2 separate regions of the Homo sapiens genome follow, and region 2 is linked to region 1. The links come from fine-mapping of genetic effects on gene expression. A gene starts in region 1. The other region holds a variant in brackets. All regions are shown on one strand. Distances are between the middles of the regions. Region 1 holds the start of CCDC154 (coiled-coil domain containing 154). Region 2 overlaps UQCC4 (ubiquinol-cytochrome c reductase complex assembly factor 4).

Region 1 (2,728 bases):
GGGGGTCTGGCCAAGGGGCCCCTGTGGCCACCTCCCATGGCTTTCCTGGGCCTCTGAAGGCCGCCCAGGCACGTACAAACCCGGCCTTTTCTAGCTGGACCTGGATGTGTATCCCCCACTCCAGCGACACCCAGCGGGAGATGTGGACCCCCCACCACACCTGCCGCTGCTTTCTCGCCACCACCTCCCCGCCCTGGGCCTGTGCCCCTAGGTGTGTGGGGGGTACCTTTTGTCCAGGGCCTGCATCTGGTTCTGGAGACCAGAGAACTGCGAGGAGGAAGAGGAGGCTGTGGGCTGGACCTAGGCCCGGGTCTGGCACCTGCCCCTGGAGTCCACCCAGCTCCGGCACCACTGGCCCCTGGGAGCTCTGGGCCTGGGCAGCAGGGGTGAGCTGGGCTCCAGGCCCAGAAGCAGCTGCCCCCAACACCCAGGAAAGGGGCAGCTCGACCTGTGGGTGGGGGAGCCGCTCACCTCCGGCGCCTCCTTTTCGGGGGCCTGGGCTGCCGGCCGCGCCTCCTGCTGCAACTGCCTCAGCTCTGAGCCCTGCAGCTGCACGCGGGCCCGCACCTGGAGCAGCTCCCGCAGCAGGCTCCGCGTGGCGCGCTCACAGCGCTGCTTGTGCTCCCGCAGGCAGGCCACCTCGGCCTGCAGCTCCACCACCCTGGCCGGGGCGAGAGTGGGCGAGTCTGGCGGTGCCCGCCGTGGAGGCGGAGGCGGCGGCGACGTGGTCCTCCCCCGCCAGCACCCCCTGCAGGGCTCACCACTGCTCCAGCTGGTTCCAGTGCTTGGCGGTGTCCTGCTCGGGGACAGAGGCCGTGGATGTCGGATGGCTGGACTCATACCTCTCCGAGAGCTCCTCCAGGCTCAAGGGCTCGGGGCTGGCCAGGCCTCCTGCCAGGAGGAGCCCCAGGTCTTCCAGGGTGACGGCTCTCAGCTGGGAAGGGGCCGATGCCCCTGAGGGTCCACTGTCAGCCAACTCTACAAGGAGGCATCTTGGGAGCTTGCCCCTTGGGGCCCGGCCCCCACTGGAGCTTACGGGAACAAGGCCCCAAACCCCCGCAGGACCCTCGCCCACCACCCAGAGCTCAACGCGTCTCCTTGGGTCACACAGGATCCAGACGGGCTTGGCTCAGACAAGTCCAGGGCCCTGCCTGAAGACACACAGCACTGGGCGGCAGGAACAAGCGAGCTGGAGGGAGCCCGGGGTCAGAAGCAGAGCGGTCCCCACCCTCACACCTGTGGCAAGCCCCTCCCTGGGCCCCGCTCCTCCGCTCTGGTCACCTGACATGGCTGCTGGGCTGCACCGGCCACCCTGCCCTCGGCTGTAGCTTGGGCCTTGGGGCCTCTGAGGTTGCCCAGAGCTGGGCACAGGCCAGGGGGGTCAGGAGCCAGAGGAAGTCCCGTGAGAGCTCTGGGCCTTGAGGGACGAGCTGCTGCCCTCGTCTGGCTGCCTTCTCAGGGTCCCCAGGGAGGCAGGTGTGGGGCAGCGGGGCCGTTCCAGAACCTTCCTTCTCTCCCCAGAACCTCACGGCTTCACAGCCCAACTGCCAATGGAACTCTAGCCCTCAGCTCTCCCACTCCCGCAGGGCCCCCCAACTGCCTGCTTCTGGATGGATCTGAGGGGCCCCACTCCCGAGAGGGCGCAGACACGTGTCCTCTGGCAAAGGGGACTTCTTCAGCTGCCGAGGGAGGGGAAGGAGGCCCTGACGAGGCCTGGGCACGCCGGGAGGGACGCTGGGAGCAGGGAGGCCGAGAGCCCCAGGACACCCCGGACACAGCCAGGCCCACGTCCGAGCGGAGCCCGAGGCCTGGGCAGCGCCATCGGGGTGAGGGGCACAGCCGGGCTCCACGGGAACCCATCTTGCTCAGCAGCCCCATTAAAAGGCAAGAAGCAGCGATGTGAATCCTAACCGCTGATTTTATTTAACCGAATATATCCAAAATATGATCACTTCCAGGTCCTCAGTACACAACCACCACGAGGGAAACCCAGACCTAGGTTTCCGGCGCCGACTCTGAGGCCCGGGAGTTTTCTTCTTGCGTCACCCCAGCGTGGGCACCCCGGCCCGCCCCCCTCCACCTGGAGCGCCTCTGCCTTGCCCCCAGACCCACCAGCCAGGAGCCAGAGGAGGGAGGCTGAGGGGCGGGGACGAGGAAGAGGATGTGGCTGGTGCCCTGGGTGGCCGCAGCCGCTGTCTTTCACGCCTTTCTCACTCCACACGGTGCCCCGACCCCAGGGTCCCGAAAGTCCCAGGCTGTTGGACGTGGTCTGGGTGGGGTGGGAGGGACGACGCTGGCAAAGGCGGGCTGAGAGGATTTCTTTATTTCGCGTTCAGACCCAACACACTCGGACACCTTGGGGCCCTGTGAGGGCTAAGCAGGGTGGTGGCGTCAGCTCCCGGGGAGGCCCCACTCCCTGGGGAGGAAATACACGGCAGGGGGCCGCACCCAGCCCCCCACGGAGGGACCCGTGTTGCTCTAACAGGGACACTGAAGTTGCCTCTGCCGCCCCGTGAGGGGCCTGTGGCGGCCCCAGACCCAGCCCAGCCAGGCCAGAGGAGCCTCCCAGGGGCCCTCAGGTGGTGAGGTGGGGGCTTCCCGGCCCCGGTGCCCACCGGCCCTTCTAGCTGCCTGTGCTGGGCCAGGTGTCCTCTGAGGCCGGCAGGAGTCTGGCCCCCGCTGCACCTGCGCTTGGTGGCTGGCAGGGGCGGGGTAGGGAGGTCACCCT
Region 2 (3,003 bases), 25 kb before region 1:
GACCAGCCTGGCCAACATGGTGAAACCCCGTTTCTACTGAAAATACAAAAAAAAATTGCTGGGCGCAGTGGTGCACGCCTGTAATCCCAGCTACTCAGGAGGCTGAGGCAGGAGAATTGCTTGAACCCGGGAGGCAGAGGTTGCTGTGAGCCGCGATCGTGCCACCACACTCAAGCCTGGGTGACAGAGCGAGACTCCGTCTCAAAAAAAAAACAAAAAAACAAAAAACAATTTCCACCTCCTGCCCAGCCATTTGTCATCTTAGGAATCGCTGCAGCTGCGTCTGTTCTAGCATGCTTACAATGGTCTCCCTCTCAAATGCTTATCTGGGGAGGTCAGTGTGCCATGTACCCTGGGGAAAATAAAAGCTACAGCCCAGTTGGGAAAACAAGACAAACACACTACAAAAATAGTTAAATACAACTGGGCGCAGTGGCTCCTGCCTGTAATCCCAGCACTTTGGGAGGCCGAGGTGGGCAGATTGCCTAAGGTCAGGAGTTCAAGCCTGGCCAACATGGTGAAACCCTGTCTCTACTAAAAATAGAAAAATTAGCCGGGCATGGTGGTGCACGCCTGTAATCCCAGCTACTCAGGAGGCTGGGGCGGGAGAATTGCTTGAACCCCGGAGGCGGAGGTTGCAGTGAGCCAAGACTGTACCATTGCACTCCAGCCTGGGCAACAGAGCAAGACTCCATCTCAAAAAATAATAATAAATACTAACTGTACTGAATTAACTGTTCACCTATCAACCTGCTCTGTTGCCATCCTTTGAAAACTCCAGGAGTAGGGAAGATCCGCCCACCATCCCCAGCTGGCCTTGGGTCTGTCTACGGCACAGGTGTGAGGTCAGCAACTGGAAAAGCCCTCCCAGATCGCTGCCCTGGAGGCACTTGGGATCTGCTGCATGTCTCTGAAACATGTATAGGTATATATGTATGAAAACAATTGACCGGGCGCAGTGGCTCATGCCTATAATCCCAGAACTTTGGGAGGCCAAGGCGGGCAGATCACTTGAGGTCAGGAATCTGAGACCAGCCTGGCCAACATGGCGAAACCCCGTCTCTACTAAAAATACAAAAATTAGACGGGTGTGGCGGTGCGTGCCTGTAATCCCAGCTACCCTGGAGGCTGAGGCAGGAGAGTCGCTTGAACCCAGGAGGTGGAGGTTGCAGTGAGCCAAGATGGAGCCACTGTACTCTAGCCTAGGTGACAGAGCAAGACTCAATCTCAAAAAAAAAAAGAGAAAACAATCTGGGGCCGGGCGCGGTGGCTCCCATCTGTAATCCCAGCACTGTGAGAGGCCGAGGAGGAGAGATCACTTGAAGTCAGGAGTTTGAGACCAGCCTGGCCAACATGCCAAAAGCCCGTCTCTACTGAAAATTTAAAAATTATCCGGGTGTGGTGGCACAAGCCTGTAGTTCTAGCTACTCGGGAGGCTGAGGCAGAAGAA[C/T]TGCTTGAACCCAGGAGACAAGAGGTTGCAGTGAGCCAAAATTGTGCCACTGCACTCCAGTCTGGGAGACAGAGTGAGACCCTGTCTCAAAAATAAAAACAAAACAAAACAAAACAAAAAAACAAAAAACAATCACTTAGGTAACCCAAAATAGTGCCCATCATTTGTGAAAAGAAATACTCACTAGTTGTATTCTACTCAGAAAATGGTTGCCTTGCTTAAAAAGTTTTGCAGAAAACTGCAAAAGTTCCTCATTTCTGGTACTATTCGGTAATATATATGTAGGTTTCTTTCCTCAGTTCCCACTCTGGAAAAAAAAAAAAAAAGGAAAACGAAACTTTTTTTTTTTTTTTGAGACGGAGTCTCGCTTTGTCGTGCAGGCTGGAGTGCAGTGGCGCGATCTCGACTCACTGCAAGCTTCGCCTCCAGGGTTCACGCCATTCTCCTGCCTCAGCCTCCGGAGTAGCTGGGACTCCAGGGGCCCGCCACCACGCCCGGCTAATTTTTTGTATTTTTTAGTAGACACAGGGTTTCACCGTGTTGGCCAGGATGGTCTCGATCTCCTGACCTCGTGATCCGCCCGCCTCAGCCTCCCAAAGTGCTGGGATTACAGGCGTCAGCCACCGCGCCCGACCGGAAAAGGAAACTTTTAAAAATAGCTGCTGGTGCAACTAACTTACGTGCTCTGGTAAACAAGAAGAGATTAAAATAAAAAACAATAGCTGCCCAAATACCCCCTTTTTAAAAACTAGATGCAAAAAAAGGGAATCATCTAATCCCATATTATAAAATTAAAATTTATTTTCATTTGTTGTTGTGTAAAACTCACATGTGGAAGTGTTCCTTGCACAGGCCGCAGCATGCAATACAGTTTCACACTTCTGCCAGATATTCTATCTCAGAAAGCAAATTACCTGCAAACTAACACTGGATGACAAGTGTCACCAGAAGTGCTTTGGAAACATGATTATGTTATACAAAGACTTGGCAAATCCAACAGCATACAGTGCAACTGAAACCTTCCCCAAGGATCTGAGAAGTCTTGCCGATGGAATCCTTGGACATCAAGAGCCAGGCGAGGAGCAGTTTCCGATCTGCTGAGATTCTGCTCCGCCTTCACGCGAATCAGCATAGCCAAGTGCCCCATCCACCAGCCAAGTCCTTCAGTGCTGAGGACGCACGCATAGCCAGGACAGTCACGGGCAAACGTGACATCAAATCCGAAGGGCGGCTGTCGGCTCCCTTCCTGCCAGCCCCAGCGGGCACCCCGTCAAGTTCTCGCTCTGTAGGCAGCTGGAGTCTCAGGCTCCTCAGAACGATCACTGGGCTCTGGCACCTCTCCCCACACCTGTCTCAACCACTGGTCCGCCTCGCTCTCCTCCCTCAGGTAGCACCAGATGATCAGCGCCACGAGGAAGCAGCTGAGGGGCAGCACCTTCCACCAGGGCCGCTGATGTCCCTTTCCCATGGTATGGCCCACCGACCAGCGGTGAGGGTTGGCTTTGCTGGAGGAAAACTCAATGGGGCGGTCAGGGTCGTCCTCTTCCTCGGCG

Evidence for each region.
Region 2: its variant is fine-mapped to the expression of CCDC154 in putamen (GTEx, PIP 0.92).

Annotation. Positions count from the first base shown.
Region 1 is chr16:1,443,035-1,445,762 of GRCh38, forward strand. CCDC154 (coiled-coil domain containing 154) reads right to left here and starts at 1,522. Exons shown (of 17, transcript NM_001143980.3): 1 at 1,282-1,522; 2 at 762-978; 3 at 472-661; 4 at 227-267. The coding sequence starts at 1,288. CLCN7 (chloride voltage-gated channel 7) reads right to left here. Exons shown (of 25, transcript NM_001287.6): 25 at 1,901-2,728.
Region 2 is chr16:1,417,526-1,420,528 of GRCh38, forward strand. It overlaps UQCC4 (ubiquinol-cytochrome c reductase complex assembly factor 4), which reads right to left. Exons shown (of 2, transcript NM_001272051.2): 2 at 2,227-3,003. The coding sequence ends at 2,721. Among named protein-coding and RNA genes, the nearest start is that of UQCC4, 1.7 kb to the right of the region's middle. RefSeq lists enhancers at 2,513-3,003, 2,856-2,925, 2,936-2,985. The variant C/T (reference allele first, on the strand shown) is at 1,451.